2 separate regions of the Homo sapiens genome follow, and region 1 is linked to region 2. The links come from fine-mapping of genetic effects on gene expression. A gene starts in region 2. The other region holds a variant in brackets. All regions are shown on one strand. Distances are between the middles of the regions. Region 1 has its middle 9.0 kb from the start of ERFL. Region 2 holds the start of RABAC1 (Rab acceptor 1).

Region 1 (2,898 bases), 22 kb after region 2:
GTCTGAGGGAGGAGGGGCTGGGGGCCTGGACTCCTGGGTCTGAGGGAGGAGGGCTTGGGGCCTGGACTCCTGGGTCTGAGGGAGGAGAGGCTGGGGCCTGGACTCATGAGACTGAGGGAGGAGGCTGCTGGGGGCCTGGACTCCTGGGTCTGAGGGAGGAGAGGCTGGGGCCTGGACTCATGAGACTGAGGGAGGAGGCTGCTGGGGGCCTGGACTCCTGGGTCTGAGGGAGGAGGCTGCTGGGGGCCTGGACTCCTGGGTCTGGGAGAGGAAGGTCTGGGGGGCCTGGACTCCTGGGTCTGAGGAAGGAAGGGCTGGGGGGCCTGGACTCCTGGGTCTGAGGGAGGAGGGGCTGGGGGCCTGGACTCCTGGGTCTGAGGGAGGAGGGGCTGGGGGCCTGGACTCCTGGGTCTGAGGGAGGAGGGGCTGGGGGCCTGGACTCCTGGGTCTGAGGGAGGAGAGGCTGGGGGCATGGACTCCTGGGTCTGAGGGAGGAGAGGCTGGGGCCTGGGCTCATGAGACTGAGGGAGGAGGCTGCTGGGGGCCTGGACTCCTGGGTCTGAGGGAGGAGGCTGCAGGGGTGCCTGGACTCCTGGGTCTGAGGGAAGAGACTGCTGGGGGCTTGGATTCGTGAGCCTAATGGAGGAGGGGCTGGGAGCCTGGACTCGTAGGTCTTGGGGGAAGAGGAAGCTGGGGTTTTAGACTCCTGGGTCTGAGGGAGGAGGGGCTGGGGCCTGAAATCTGGGGCCTGGGGGAAGGAGGAGGCTGGGAGCCTCCACTCCTGGGCTCTAGGCTGGGAGCTTGGCTCTGGGGGGGCTGGGTTGGGAGGCCCCTGATTGATTTCTGTTTACCGGCTGTCCCCGCAGGCGGAAGAGCGAATCGCGCCCCATCCATCAACAGGCTCGCAGCCTCCCTAATAAAAACATTTTACTCCTAAATGATCTCGAACTAATTAACTCAAAGTGTTAATTAAAGTTTGCGCAGACAGCATTGTCATCAGGGAGGGCGGTGGATCCATCTTCCTGAGAAAGAGACAGGGTTTGGGGGGGCTCCCATCCCCCTCACTGCTGAGCCCTGTCCACTGCTCTGCCCTGTGGCCTCCAACCTCCCCTCGGGGGCTCTCCGCGTCTGTCCCCACTCTCAAGCTCTTCTCTGAGCTCTTCACTGGTCCGTCTCTCTCATCTCTCACTGTTAGCCCGTCTGAGTTTCTGTGTCTCCGTCTCTTGCCTCTCTTGCCAGAATGCTGTGTCCCCAGGGTTCCCACCTCCGGTTCATGTGGTGCTTTTATGTGTCTATG[C/T]GTTGGGGTTATGTGTGTGGACCACGTATGTGTGTCAGAGTTTGTATGTGGACACACATGTATGTCAGAGGAGATGCATGGTGGCTTGTGTGTGCACATGTGTGTTTGAACCCGGGGTGTATGTGTTAGAGTTTGCATGGGCACAGGCATATATGAGCCCAGAGCTATGTGTGTGTCTGAACATGAGGTCCATGCAGACAGGCAGGCTGTGGGACCCGACCAGGTGTTTGAGGACCTCTAGGGGCCCCTTGCTTGGCAGGCCAGGCAGGAGCAGGGGCCATAGGTGCACTGGGTGGGCAAGGGACCAAGCTCAAGTTCACTGGGCCCCTCTCCCCTTCCCCCCTCTCCTATAGTCCACCGCCGGCAGGGCCAGGGAGCCCAGGACAGGCCACCAGGCCATGGGCACTGGTGGGGTGGCTGGCTGGGCGGCCCCAGTGTGAGCTCATACATCAGGGCTGACAGGCTCCAAAAGCCCCGGAATTAAAACCTAAATCGAATATTGATCACCCACTCCGGCCGTGGCGCCCACAACGGCCCCCCCAGCTCCCTCGCGCTTGCTCCCTGCTCCCTGGTTCTCAGGCGTCACCGCTGTCCTGTCTCTCCGTCTTTCTTGCCTCCTCTCTCCCCAGCTTCTCCGCACCCAGGCCTTCCTCTAGTGGCCCCAGCAGGTGCCCCCTCAGGCAGAGACAGAGACAGAGGCTGAAAGAGACACAGGGACATGCGGATGCAGAAAAGAGACCCAGACACAGAAATAGTTCAACACAGACCTGCAGACAGACCCAGAGCAGGCAACACACAGACAGACAGACAGACACGGCACACAGTCATCCACAGACTTACACACAGGGAGTCACACACAGCCACACCCCAAAAGTCACACTGATACAGACACACACCACACAAAAATGCTGCCCACAGGACGCACATACAGAAAGTGCCAGACAGGCAGACAGACATACCCACAAGCCCACAGAGTTACCGTCACACGCAGGGTCACCGAGACCTGAGTGTAGTGACACAGGGACAATCGCAAAGCAAGTTACACCAACATGGGCAGAGCGAGACAGAAGATACACAGTCATATATGCAGGCAGACACAGAGACACACTGAGCTCCCAAGTGGCAGGGAACACACTCCCTGTCTGCCCATTTGCACTGATCCTGACACAGCGGCCACCTCCCTCTGACTCAGCCCCCAGACACCACCCCCACTCTTGGATCAAGAACCCAGAAAGCCCCACTGCACGGGGAGGAGGCTCCCAGACCTCATCCCCCAACTCTGAGCAGCCCCTTCCATGTCCCAAAGGTCCAGGCTGGTCCAGGAAGGTAACTGGAGAGATGGACCCCAGAGAGGGCAAGGATTCCCCAGCCAGAGAGGGACAGGGACAGGGCTAAGGTCATGCTGTCCAGGGAAGGCCGAGGGATCCAGGGTTCTAGTCTCTGAGACCACCTGTAGGATTGAGGCGAGACAGTGGGAAGAACTTCCCCAGACCACTAGGGCTGGGGCTCCCCAGAGTGAGCAGGGGTGCTGCCCCACCCCCACCCCCACCCTGAGGCTTCCCGGCTGGGGCGGGCAGCCTTGGAGGCGGGCGGTGGCGGCT
Region 2 (2,898 bases):
AAGACAAGAGCTGGGCCTAAAAGAGTCACTTGGGGCCAGGCGCAGTGGCTCACACCTGTAATCCCAGCACTTTGGGAGGCCGAGGCGGGCAAATCACAAAGTCAGGAGTTCGAGACCAGCCTGGCCAACATGGTGAAACCCCATCTTTACTAAAAATACAAAAAATTAGCTGGGCATAGTGGCGGGCGCCTGTAATCCCAGCTACTCGGGAGGCTGAGGCAGGAGAATCGCTTGAACCCAGGAGGAGGTGGAGGTTGCAGTGAGCCAAGATTGTGCCACTGCACTCCAGCCCTGGCGACAGAGTGAGACTCCGTCTCAAAAAAAAAAAAAAGTCACTTGAACCTGGGCATGGTGGCTCACACCTGTAATCCCAATACTTGGGAAGGCCAGGCAGAAGGATCGCTTGAGTCCAGGAGTTTGAGACCTACTGGGCCAACACAGCAAAATCCCTTATCTACTTAAAAAAATTTTCAAAAAAAAAAAGGTCACCTGGTTATCCCATATAGATATTTTCCTTCCAGCCCCACCCAGCTGCTTTGGAAAATTAGGATCCCAGTCTGCTTAAGGGAGCCCAGGCTTCCCTATACTTCCACACACATTTCTTGAGGCCCTGTTCTGGTTCACCCCATTAGAATTCAATTAGAATTCCAGCCCTGTGGGCCAGGCACAATGGCTCACGCCTGTAATCCCAGCACTTTGAGAGGCTGAGACAGGAAGATCACGAGGTCAGGAGTACGAGACCAGCCTGGCCAACATGGTGAAACCCCGTCTCTACTAAAAAAATACAAAAATTAGCTGGGCGTGGTGGCGGGCGCCTGTAATCCCAGCTACTCTGGAGGCTGAGGCAGGAGAATCGCTTGAACCCAGGAGGCAGAGGTTGCAGTGAGCCGAGATTGCGCCATTGCACTCCAGCCTGGGCAACAAGAGCGAGACTCCATTTCAAAAAAGCCCACAAAACTTCTCAACCTTTTGTCTTTCCCAACTTCACTCCCTTCTCTCCAAAGGTGTGTGTGGCGGGGTCGGAGGTGTCCCTAGCCCCAACTCATTCATCTTTGGGACTCCACAAGGTGGGGCAGGGGGCAACCTCAGATACCCCTCCAGCAACCATGGCCCCCTCACTAGCCTCAATCTCTTGAGGAAGGAATCAATTCCCACAAATTATCTAAATCTTTCTACTCAAAATGTAGTCCATGGACCAGGGGCATCAGCATCACCTGGGAACTCAGAAATGGAAATTATGGGCTCCACCCCAGACTTGCTGAATGAAAACATCTGGGCTAGGGCCCAGGAATCTGTTTTAGCAAGCCCTCCAGGTGTTTTTTTATGCCCTCTAGAGTCAGAAGGACAGCTCTGCACGGTCCCCATTGTGCCTTCCCTGGGAGAGTACACAACGCCCGCTTCTGCCGTTAGAGTTCCCATAACGCCCTCGCTCCTGACAGCCCACATGCACCCTCCTGAAACTACAACTCCTATAATACCCAGAGGCGCGCGCCGTCACTTTCTGGGATTATATCTCCCAAGGTGTTTTGCGAGTCAGACCGCCATCATAGCGCCCATCCTCTTAGTCACCGTCAGGACTACAACTCCCACAATACTCGGCGGCAGAACTACAGTCCCCAGCTGCTCCGGGGCTGCGCCACGTCGACTCCGCTGGGTGGGGCCGGCGTCGGGCGGGGCCGGCGGGGTCTTCAGGGTACCGGGCTGGTTACAGCAGCTCTACCCCTCACGACGCAGACATGGCAGCGCAGAAGGACCAGCAGAAAGATGCCGAGGCGGAAGGGCTGAGCGGCACGTGAGCGAGCTGGCTCTAGGCCCTCGGACCAGAGACCCGGGAGTCCGGGCCCCCGGCCCCCTCCTCCCTCCTCCCTCGAGAGCCTGGAGTCCCAGCCCCGAGCCGCAGAAGTGTTGGCCCCGGTCTCCTCTAATGGGACCCTGGAGTCTGGGCCCCTAGTCCCCTCCCTGCCTGCTGTACAGGAATCTGGGGTCCCGGGAGGGAGTCCAGGCACCCTTAGTCCCCTTCTTTTGCGGGGGTCTGGGGCTCCATCCCGGTCCACCACTGACCCGGCCCCACCCCCCGCAGGACCCTGCTGCCGAAGCTGATTCCCTCCGGTGCAGGCCGGGAGTGGCTGGAGCGGCGCCGCGCGACCATCCGGCCCTGGAGCACCTTCGTGGACCAGCAGCGCTTCTCACGGCCCCGCAACCTGGGAGAGCTGTGCCAGCGCCTCGTACGCAACGTGGAGTACTACCAGAGCAACTATGTGTTCGTGTTCCTGGGCCTCATCCTGTACTGTGTGTGAGTGCCTCCCGGGCCCCGCACCCGCACTAGCCCCGACCGGCTGGACCCCTCCTCTCGCCGCTCAGGCCCCGCCCTTCACCGCCCGGTCCCTCCTCTCACCGCCCAGGGCCCTCTTCTCACCGCCCAGGCCCCGCCCCCAAGGATTGGCTCTGCTAGACTACCTTGTCACCAAAGGGCCAGGTCCCCTACCCCACCATCACCCTGGCCAGGATGCAGTGTGACTAAATGTCACCTGGCCCTCCCTGGTCTCCAGGATGTAGCTTGCCGCCCGCCGGTGGAGAAGGCCAGGGCCGTCGGGCTGGCCCAGCCCCAGCTGTCTAACCGCTGCCTCCCTGCACTCCTCCTCCAGGGTGACGTCCCCTATGTTGCTGGTGGCTCTGGCTGTCTTTTTCGGCGCCTGTTACATTCTCTATCTGCGCACCTTGGAGTCCAAGCTTGTGCTCTTTGGTGAGAAACCCCCTGCCCAGATGAATCCTTGGTCCCTCAAATCTTGGTCTTTTGGAATGCAGACAGACCTCAGACCCCAAATCCAAGTCCTTCAAAACCCAAGTCCGCCCAAGCCTAGATGTACACTAGATCCCCCAAACCTGATCCCTTAAAAT

The links. PIP is the estimated chance that this variant, and not a neighbour inherited with it, causes the effect.
Region 1: its variant is fine-mapped to the expression of RABAC1 in whole blood (INTERVAL, PIP above 0.99).

What each region holds. Positions count from the first base shown.
Region 1 is chr19:41,936,043-41,938,940 of GRCh38, reverse strand. No RefSeq gene overlaps it. Among named protein-coding and RNA genes, the nearest start is that of ERFL, 9.0 kb to the right of the region's middle. RefSeq lists enhancers at 1,175-1,244, 1,265-1,334. The variant C/T (reference allele first, on the strand shown) is at 1,298.
Region 2 is chr19:41,958,131-41,961,028 of GRCh38, reverse strand. RABAC1 (Rab acceptor 1) reads left to right here and starts at 1,708. Exons shown (of 5, transcript NM_006423.3): 1 at 1,708-1,792; 2 at 2,081-2,293; 3 at 2,646-2,743. The coding sequence starts at 1,737. RefSeq lists an enhancer at 1,331-1,620 and silencers at 1,731-1,980, 2,431-2,500.